Regions from separate parts of the Homo sapiens genome. Here region 2 is linked to region 1. The links come from fine-mapping of genetic effects on gene expression. A gene starts in region 1. The other region holds a variant in brackets. All regions are shown on one strand. Distances are between the middles of the regions.

Region 1 (5,373 bases):
ACAGGCATGAGCCACCGTGCTCGGCCCACCCAGACTCTTTAGAATGGCCCAAAGGTGCCCATCTGCTCCCTGCCAACCTCCCCCTCCTCACATGGCACACTATGTGCGGTCACATGGAACTGCCTGTCCGTCACCTACATGCGCCTGCACATTATGCAGTCCTCATCTTTGCATATGCTTTCATTTTGCATATGCATTCTTGTTCACTTGGCAAATTCCTACTCATACTTCAAAAGCCAGATCACTGTCTGGCTGTGGTGGGTCACGCCTGTAATTCCAGCATTTTGGGAGGCCAAGGCAGTGGATCACTTGAGGCCAGGAGTTCAAGACCAGCCTGGCCAACATGGAGAAACCCCGTCTCTTCTAAAAGTACAAAAATTAGCCAGGGGTGGTGGCAGGCACCTGTAATCCCAGCTACTCAACAGGCTGAGGCAGGAAAATCGCTTGAGCCTGGGAGGCGGAGTTTGCAGTGAGCCGAGATGGTGCCACTGCACTCCAGCCTGGGTGACAGAGCAAGACTCCATCTCAAAAAAAAAAAAAAAAAAAAAATTCAAAGTACCCTTAGGACGTGGGTGCTATTCCTATCCCCATTTTACAGATAAGGAAACTGAGGCTCAGAGAATAAGAACAAACTTACTATGTAGCACTTGTTATGTGCCAGGCACTGGTTCTGAATATTTTACATAAATTAACTCATTCAGCAGACACAAAAGCTCTATCACCTGGGTACTTGTTACCATTCTCTATTTTTTTTTTTTTTTGAGACTTGATCAGGAGATCAAGACCATCCTGGCTAACACGGTGAAACCCCGTCTCTATTAAAAATACAAAAAATTAGCCAGGCGTGGTGGCAGGTGCCTGTAGTCCCAGCTACTTGGGAGGCTGAGGCAGGAGAATGGCGTGAACCCCGGAGGCAGAGCTTGCAGTGAGCCGAGACGGCGCCACTGCACTCCAGCCTGGGCAACAGAGCGAGACTCCATCTCAAAAAAAAAAAAAAAAAAAAAAAAAAAACAGATCACAGATCACAGATCATCTCCTCCAGGGACAGGATGATGCAGGGCCTATTGAACCCACCCCCAACCTTCCCTAGTTATAAGAAAGGGGTGACGTGAGGAGCCCACCTCTGCCTGCCCGGCAGGTAGAGCACTGTTTTGACTTCCTCCACAAACTTCACAACAGGCCTATGGGGCAAGTGTCACTATCCACATTTTACAGATGAAGAAACTGAGGCCCAGACAGGCTCACTAACTTGCCTTGGCTTACCCAACTGGAAAGTGGCAGAGCTAGACGCCAAACCCCAGCGATGCCCTGAGGCTTGCGTCCTCCAGGGGAGGGAAAGGCACCTGAGCAGGATGAAATGAGCAGATGCCCACCTTGCTTCTGGGGAGGAAAGCAGGGGGATGGATGGAAAGAACTCCAGGTAGGTCGGAGAGAAGCCCTCACTCTTCTGACCTCCGTCTCCAAACTCCAGCTCCTCTTGTCTCTCTACTCCCAGGTGGGCCTGTGAGGGAAGCTGTGGCCCCAGGGGAGGGAAAGATGCTGTTTCCTGGTCCTGCATCCATCCGGAGCCCCTCTCCTACCCCAAAGGTCCTCACTGGCTGTTCTGAGGCACCGACATTGTATTAAAGTGCCCTATTTGTGAAGGAATAAAATGAAGAGTGCACTGATTATCCAAAGTGACTAGTGCAGCCAGGGCAGGGGAGCGTGTAGGACCCAGCACCTTTTAACCAGCTGCCTTTCTGGGGAGCTGGAGAGAGTGCAGGATTGTCTGGTGCTGCCAGGGTTGGTGAAGGTAGGGAAGGAGCACCTCAGGCAGGGAGGCTGCTCCCTGTGTGACTTAACTGTGTCCAAGGTGACTCATGCCCCCTATCCAGGCCCAGCCAGGCCCCCAGTTTCCTTCCAGCTTAAACATGCGAATGGAGGGCTGGGGCAGAACAGAAGCCATTTCAGCTGCAATGCTGGGGGATGTGGAATAGAGATCAAGGTCCCCCAACCTCTCCAGCCCTGTGCACAAAATCCCAGGCATTCTGAGGCTGACTGAGGACCCCGTGGTCTCTTCCTGATTTCTCAGGGAACTGACCTAGGTGGAAAAGCAACACACTCACTGGCCTCCTGTGTTATCTTGGCCCCTTCTTCACCCTCTCTGGGCCTCACGGTCCCCTGTGCACGGTGACAGGGTGGGGATGGGGTTACCAGATGATCTATATGGAATTTTCCAGCCTCATTTCAGCCAATGTGCTGCCTGAGACAGTGTGAGTTTGCAGAGCCCCTCTCCCTACCTCCCAAGCCATTGGCACCACTCGGTGCCCTCCGTGTGCCCAAAGACCCACCTCACGCCCTGCAGATGCCAGTTCCGGGGGCTCTGTGCTGAGCACACCGCCTCAGCCTGAGCAGCTCAGCATTGGCCCGTGGACTCATTCGCAGCTGCTGTCCCCAGAGACACTGCCATCTGCGGCCGCCCTGGGTGCTGGAGGCAGAGATAGGGCAGAGCCAATGCAACCCACGGGAGACGAGCTTCTCACACCCAGGGGCTCTGAGTGGGCCAGGAGGGGGCAGTCCTGGACTGGCTCAGCACCCTGGTATCTCTCCCTGCCCATCAGAGACCCTTCCCCCTAGCCCCCACTCTCAGGATGGCAGGAGGTGGGACCTGTCTCAGCCAATCAGCAGCCTGGCAGAGCAAGGGCTTTATCTTCCGTTGCCCTGGCAACCAGCCTTCTCTTCTGGATCCCTGGTACTGTGCACGTGGTACAGCAGATGACAGAGCGGCAGGATTGGGGGAGTGCGGGGAGGGGGAATCACCCAGCAGGCTGCAGGACCCCAAGCCTGGTGGGCCTAGAGAGGAGAGGACCGTGGCTGATAACTCTAAGGTTTGATGGTCTGCCATTTGGGGAGCAGGGAGATGCTGGGGTAAATGGCAAGCGGGTGGGGACAGAGAATCAGTGACCAGTAGAGCTCAAGGGGGTCATATGTTATACAAGGAAAAACCAAGACTGAGTCTGAGAGTTCAGACACATTGGCTCAATGTAACATTTCCTATGCACCAGACACTGTTTTCAACGCTTTGATTATATTAACTCAATTAATTCTTATTCATGGTCACACAGCAAGAAAGTAGCAATGCCAGGGTCAGAGCCCTAGCCTGGCTTTCAGGACCCTTGCAAATGGCTCCCCCTCCCCATTCTGCCTCATCTACCCCACAGCACCCCTGGCTGGTGTACAGCCAGCACAGGCATTGAGCACTCCCATCTTCCAGCTGGCCCCAACATCACTTCCTGCAGTCCTCCCAGCTGGATTGGTGTTGAGACCCCATTTTGGGATGAGGCAGAGAGGTGATGCTGCTGGCCTTCTCCTTCTCCCAGAGCCCTCAGCTTCTCAGTGACTGAGCTGGAATTCAAAGCCAAGAGCTGACGTTGGGGGTGGGGTCCACCTTCCCAAGCATGGATCCTCCCCCTCCCCCTATGCCATAGACAAGGTATCTGCCACGTGTTGAGGGCTATTCTCAGGAGGGAGAGAGCAGCCCCCTAGGGCCCACGGGGCGTGGCTGGGAAAAGGCTTCCAGGAACCACCTCCCTAGGGAATCCGTTCCCAGAAACCTGGGGATGGGCAGGGGGAAAGCCTCTGGGTGAGGTGGCTTCAGGACCTAGGTCCCCCACCACAGACACCTCTGCGCCATCTAGGGGCTCTTCAGGTATGACAGGTCCTTTCCAGCATATGTGGGACTGGGGGGTGACTGTGAGTTCACAGAGGGTTTGTTTTTTTTGAGACGGAGTCTCGCTGTGTTCGCCAGGCTGGAGTGCAGTGGCGCAATCTCGGCTCACTGCAACCTCTACCTCCCGGGTTCAAGCGATTCCCCTGCCTCAGCCTTCCGAGGAGCTGGGACTACAGGTGGGCACCACCATGCCCGGCTAATTTTTTGTATTTTAGTAGAGGCGGGTTTACGATATTGGCCAGGATGGTCTCGATCTACTGACCTCATGATCTGCCCACCTCGGCCTCCCAAAGTGCTGGGATTACAGGCGTGAGCCACTGCGCCTGGCCTTTTGCTTTGTTTTTTAAGACAAGGTCTTGCTCTTTCACTCAGGCTGGAGCACAGTGGTGTGATCATGGCTCACTGCAACCTCTGCCTCCTGGGCTCAGGTGATCCTCCCACCTCAGCCTCCCGAGTAGCTTGGACCACAAATGCATGCCACTATGCCCAGCTGATTTTTGTACTTTTTGTAGAGACAAGATTTTGCCATATTGCCCAAGCCGGTCTTGAACTTCTGGCCTCAAGCTATCCTCCTGCCTCAGCCTCCCAAAGTACTGGGATTACAGGCGTGAGCCACCACCTGGCCAAAGTGCTTTTTAACATTTTGGGGTGGGAGAGCAGAGGAGTTGGGGGAAGAATCACAAAGGGGCAGGAGTAAACTTTTTGGGGTGAAGGTATGTTCAGGCTCTTAATGGTGATGGTGGCTTCTTAAGTATATACATATGTCAAACTTATCAAATTGTACCCTTGAAATAAGTGTAGTTGATTATACGTGTCCCTTATGCCTCAATAAATCTGTAAAGTATGTGATCCATGGCCTGTCGGCATTGTTTTAGCCACTGATTCCTTATTCATACAAAAGCTTATGGGAAGCTCAATACATAACAGAGATAAAGTGGAGGTTGCTTCGGTTCAATGGTTGGGTGGGGGTGGGGGTTCTGGACCCCACCCACTCGGAATCCCCCGTCTCTCACAGGACCCCAAGTCATCTCCCCAGGGCTCCACAGAAGCCGATTTGAAAAATGCTGGCCCAGAGGACTCTGATGACCCTGCCAGCTTGGGTGTTCAGGATGTAAGAACCTCCAGGCCTCTATCTGGCCTCCTCCCCATCCCTACCCTTCATCATGTATGGATCTTAAACACAACTACTTTCTGTTCAGCCAATGATCACCGCCCCGGTGAAGTGGAGTGCAGGCTCCCCAGGGACACAGAGCAGCTTCCCCTGGGTTCCTGCTGCTCCTGGCTGCTCCCCGATGGCCTCCCCAACTGCAGTGCCTTGTCTCTTGTTACAAGTGGTAACTCCCTGAAGCAGTTTGGCCCCTCTGGGACCAGGGTCCCCAGGGCAGGCACTCAGCACATGCTGACCCAATGGGTCTCAGCCCGGCCCCTCCTGGAAAGTCCCCACCAGAGTCCAAAGTCTTTTCCCAGCCCACCACTCTCTAAGGGCCTCAGTCTCTGGGAGCTCAATCACCTCCGTGGCCTCACCTCCTCCCCTGTTCTTCTTACTCCATCTGCCACAGCCACTGGCCTCCTTGCTACGCCTCGGAAGTGCCAGGAGTGCTTCCCACTCAGGGGCTTTCCACTTGCACTGCCTTCTGCCTGAGGCCTCTTCTTCATCATACTTA
Region 2 (5,373 bases), 300 kb before region 1:
GTTTCACTGTTGTTGCTGAGGCTGAAGTGCAATGGTGTGGTCTCGGCTCACTGCAACCTTTGTCTCCTGGGTTCAGGCGATTTTCCTGCCTCAGCCTTCCAAGTAGCTGGGATTACAGGCGCCCCGCCACCACGCCTGGCTAATTTTTGTATTATTAATTTTTGTAGAGACAGGATTTCACCGTATTGGCCAGGCTGGCCTCGAACTCCTGACCTTGGGTGATCTGCCCGCCTTGGCCTCACAAGTGCTGGGATTACAGATGTGAGCCACCGTGCCTGGCCAGTTTCAACTTTTTTTAAAGAGACCATAGTCTTCTAGCTATGTTGCCCATGCTGGAGTGCAGTGACTATTCACAGGCATGATCATAGTGCACTTCAGCCTCAAACTCCTGGCCTCAAGTGATCCTCCTACCTCAGCCTCCCTAGTAGCCGGGACTGACTACAGGTGCTCCACCACACCTGGCTTCTACGTTTTGATGAACACAGCCAGAGCTTACACATGAAGTCAGTGTTGTGATAATGCACTTCTGTGGAGTTCAGTTTGCAAAAAAAAAATGCATAGAATTAATTAGAACTCTCCAAAAGTCTCTACACAATTTATATCTCCAGTATTAGAAATGATGTGAAGATAAAATATATAGCATAGCAAATTGGCACTATGTGTGAAGGAGCAGAAATAATACACCATTGAATAATTTGGCAGGGGAGATTTCTTGTATTTTTTGCCTGTATTTTCACTTCTGCGATCTTCAAAGCACTTGCTCCAGTTTTATTTGCAAAGTGGTTGTGATCCACAAATTTTGTAAGTATATACTGTCTATTTGAAAGCCTGATTATTGCCTGGCCGTTGCAATTTCTGCTTTTGCAGCACCAGTGATAATTAGCTTTTAAACTTTTATCTTTCGCCATTAAGTAGCCGTGTACACTTATCAGAGCCTTTTTGCGAGGGAAGAGTTTCACAGATCTCTTCAATTGTGCTGTAAAGAATAAAGTAAGAAGAACTGATACTCAGCTTCCCCAACACCAAATCTGCATTAGTCAGGGTTCCCTAGGGAGACAGAACCAATAGGATATGTGTATAGATATGAGGGAATTTATTAGGGGAATTGGCTCATATGATTAATGGTGGCTGAGAAGTCCCATGACAGATCATCTGCAGGCTTGAGACCCTGGGATGCCAGTAGCATACCTCAGTCCAAATCCAAAGGCCTCAGAACCAGGGAAGCTAATGGTGTTATCTCTCGGTCCAAGGTCAAAAAGCCTCAGAATTCAGGGGGCCACTGGTTAAGTCCTGGAGTCCAAAGGCTGGCAAGCCTGGAGTTCTGATGTCCAAGGCAGCAGAAGAAAAGTCTGTTCTAGCTCTCAGCAATTCACCTTCTGTGTACTCCCTGGGCTCCTGGCTGATTGGATGATACCCACCAACATAGAGGGCTCTCCTTGCCTACTCAGACTCGCACACTAATCTCTGAAAACATCCTCACAGACACACACACAACACAGTGCTTTACCAGGTTTCTAGGTGTTCCTGTCAAGTTGATAGCTAAAATTAAGTCCACAAATCTATCCTCGGCAACTTGGTACCCATAGGCATCTCCTTAAACCATACTTAATTTCCAGATAATGACAATAGCAAGGTCATAGTTCCACCTAGCATGGTGTAACTATTGTGTACAACCAAAACTATGCAAATTCCCTGCCCCAAAATTCGGCTTTTGGGATTTCATCATTTGGGATTTTAATCTTTTGGGGTTGTGGTTTTAAACATTAGGGATTTTTAGACTTTAGTCTTTTGGGATTTTAACATTCAGGATTATGGCATTTGGGATTATGATTGGTACTGATTGCAGACAGTTTTTGCTAAATCTAGTGTTTAGATATAGCAGCAAAATAATTTCTATGTATATTTAATCACTGATGTAGTAAATCAGTAGTTAATATTTACAGATCCCTTACCCAGTACCAGGCACAGTGCACGTTTTATATTCATTATTTAATTCTCTCAGAATAACCCAATAAAGTCAGTATTTTATCTGTAAAACGGGGATAAAGAAACAGACTGAAGAGAGATTCATTCATTTGGAAGAGGTTCCTCAGCCACCAAGTGATAGAGCCAGGGCTGGCATGCAACTCTATGTGGCTTCAAAACCTGTTTCTCCCTTTTAGTGTAAAATGTATACTTTGTAAAAATGTACACCATGTGGCTGCTGCTTTCTCCCCACACTGACAGGCTTTCCCTGCCCACCTGAGCCCAGGCAGCGCCCACATGAGTACGTGCTCTCTCCCTCAGCCCTGTTCTCCCTTCACAGCAATTATCTGACAGTCTTGTCTTGTATCTGTTTCCTTCACAAAATGTAAGCACCATGGGATGGAAACTTTGCCTACTCCATCCCTGTCTGCATCCATGTTTCCTAGAGTAGTGCCTGACACACAGTAGGAGCCAACATATTTGTTGTAAAGGCTATGAACCAGAAGGTTGTATCAGTCTACAATATTCACTTTTTAAGTCACTTCTGTAGAACAGACTATTAATTTTTTCTTTCTAGTTAGTGATTTTAAGTGAGGAAATTGAAGAGAGGTGTCTTGAAGAGATGCGGAGGAACCAGTCAAGTAGGAGACAGGTCAAGGCTTGTGGAAGTAGAGATTGGTAGTGGTTTAAATGAGCATGGTGCTGGACCTGCCTGAGCTCTTGTAGCTTCGTGAATAGTAACCTTTCTTCCCCAGTCCCTGGTCTAGTGTCTTCCCAACTACTGCCAGAAAATCTTCTGAAAGGTAGCTCTTGTCGTATCCTTTTCATTTGTGTACTGAGTTAAATTTAGACACCTTGCCTTGGTCTTCAGGGTTCCATGGTAGGACCCTGCCCTGCCTCTCTAACCACATCTCCTGGTTTCCCCAGTTGTATCCTCTGCTGCAGCTCGGTGTCCCCAGAGGTGCCTTTATTTCCAGGTCTGGGTCCGTGTCCTCTTTTCTGTTCTCCATCTTATCTTTTTTTTTTTTTTTTTT[G/TG]AGATGGAGTCTCGCTCTATCACCCAGGCTGGAGTGCAGTGGCACCATCTCGGCTCACTGCAAGCTCCGCCTCCCGGGTTCATGCCATTCTCCTGCCTCAGCCTCCTGAGTAGCTGGGATTACAGGCGCCTGCCACCACGCCAAGCAAATTCTTATATTTTTAGTAGAGATGGGATTTCACCATGTTGACCAGGCTGGTCTCTAACTCCTGACCTCAGGTGATCCACCTGCCTCGGCCTCCCAAAGTGCTGGGATCACAGGTATGAGCCACCGCGTGCAGCCTGTTCTCCATCTTTTGAGATAGTTATATTTCAAGGCCTTTCTCAAATGTTACTTTTCTCCATGAAATCTAACATTCCCTTAACTGGATGTTTCCTTCATGACGTTTGTAATTTTCTGGTGCACCTTTAATCTTTGCTTTTTGCTTTTTATTATACCTTTCTTTTTTCCTTTTTTTTTTTTTTTTAATTTTTTGAGACAGAGTCTTGCTCTGTCCCCCAGGCTGGAGTGCAGTGGCGCAATCTCGGCTCACTGCAACCCCTGCTTCCCAGGTTCAAGCAGTTCTCCTGCATCAGCCTCCCAAGTAGCTGGGATTACAGGCACCCGCCACCACGCCTGGCTAATTTTTGTATTTTTGGTAGAGATGGCGTTTCACCATGTTGGCCAGGCTGGTCTCAAACTCCTGACCTCGTGATCTGCCTGCCTCAGCCTCCCAAAATGCTGGGATTACAGGCGTGAGCCACCGTGCCCAGCCTATTATACCTTTCTAAATGTGTTCTTGCCCTCCTTCCCCAGTCCTCCCTGAGGGCAAGATTATGGTATTGGCACTTGCCGTATCCTCTACGGTGCATTGAACACATGAACAAGCAATCATTTTAGAGGTAGAGAAAAACACGTACGAGAAAAAGGCAAACAATGGTATTTAGTTTTGGTGTAGGGAAGACTTGTCCTTTTCCAAGGATTAGTTTTGGTGGTCAGGAAGCTTTTTGAAGCCAGGAGAAACAATGTAGGTAAAGAATTAAGTATATTGAGGCCAGGCCTGGTGACTCATGCCTGTATCCCAGCACTTTGGGAGGCCGAGGCGGATGGGTCACTTGAGGTGAGGTAAAGAGTTTAAGACCAGCCTGGCCAACATGGCGAAACCCTGTCTCTACCAAAAATACGAAAGTTAGCTGGGCGTGGTGGCATGCGCCTGTAACGCCAGCTACACGGAGGCTGAGGTAAGAGAATCACTTGAACCTGGTAGGTGGAGGTTGCAGTGAGCCAAGATCACACCAGTGCACTCCAGCCTGGGTGACAGAGTGAGACTCCATCTCAGAAAAAAAAGAAAAAAGAAAAAGAATTAAGCAAATTGGGTCTAGTATTTTAGAGTAGAAGAAAAGAAACCAAATGGGGAAACGACTGAGAAGCACCATTTTTCAGAGTTTGGGGATGAGTCCTAGTACTTGTCCTCAGGGTGTTCAACAGTATTGTGTGGGAAACAGACAACTAGATCATTGATAATACGTTGTAAAAATTTGACCATAGAGCTGGCTGTGGTGGCTCATGCCTGTAATTCCATCTATTCAGGGGCTGAGGTGGGAGGATTGCTTGAGGCGAGGAGTTGGAGACCAGTCTGGGCAACGTAGTGAGACCTTCTCTCCAAAAAATACATAAATAAAATTTAAAAATAAAATTGGCCATAGAGAGGGAAAGGCGCTAGAAAACATTGGTTAATTCTACCAAAGCTTAGTAAGAGCTAGTGATCTTAGCAAAATTGAGGTCCTGAGCAGGTGGGCAGAAAGGTTGACATCGCGCTGGAGGAAGCTGTCTTAGGGTGAATACATGAATTGTCTTGACCCCCTTAAAAGGGCATTGCAGAAGGTATCACAATATTTTAGGAAGATGATGGTGAAAGGTTAGTTTTTAGTACTAGGACTCAGTTCTTAAGGGAGAAGTAGGTCAGTGTTCAAAGAAACAATATTTAATTTAGTGTTAGAAACCTCCCAGATAGCATCTTGTTCTTCCACGTTTCATGTTTTTGCAGGGCCGAGATGAGTAGCCATGGGAATGAGACAGGAGTAAAGGAGGCTGGACACAGTAGTTGACGCCTACAATGGGATGCTAGGTGGGAGGATCACTTGAACCCAGGTGTTGGAGACCAGCCTGGGCAGCATAGTGAGACCTCGTCTCTACAAAATTAAAAATAGCCGGGCATAGTGGTGCATGCCTGTAGTCCCAGCTACAAAGAGAAAAAAAGGAGTAAGGGAGATAACTAAAGGGGAAGACTATGTAATGAATTACTTGCTCTTGCATGTCCTAGGTTCTTCTCAGTTACACCTTTTTAGAGATTTTTTTTCTTTTTCTTTTTCTCTTCTGAGACAGGATCCGGCTC

Which allele goes with the higher level. Positions count from the first base shown, and alleles are read on the strand shown. Sizes are in standard deviations (SD) of each study's normalised expression.
In carriers of allele TG in region 2, the expression in prefrontal cortex of the gene that starts at base 2,602 in region 1 tends to be lower than with G alone (moderate effect, 0.42 SD a copy in ROSMAP).

What was found. PIP is the estimated chance that this variant, and not a neighbour inherited with it, causes the effect. A credible set is the group of variants that fine-mapping cannot tell apart.
Region 2: its variant is the best candidate, but not a certain one, in a credible set for the expression of SMIM45 in prefrontal cortex (ROSMAP, PIP 0.85).

The regions. Positions count from the first base shown.
Region 1 is chr22:41,949,379-41,954,751 of GRCh38, reverse strand. SMIM45 (small integral membrane protein 45) reads right to left here and starts at 2,602. Exons shown (of 2, transcript NM_001395940.1): 1 at 2,331-2,602. RefSeq lists a silencer at 3,618-3,677 and an enhancer at 3,146-3,773.
Region 2 is chr22:42,245,066-42,250,438 of GRCh38, reverse strand. The region is part of intron 1 of TCF20 (transcription factor 20); the gene reads left to right. Among named protein-coding and RNA genes, the nearest start is that of TCF20, 23 kb to the left of the region's middle. The variant G/TG (reference allele first, on the strand shown) is at 3,000.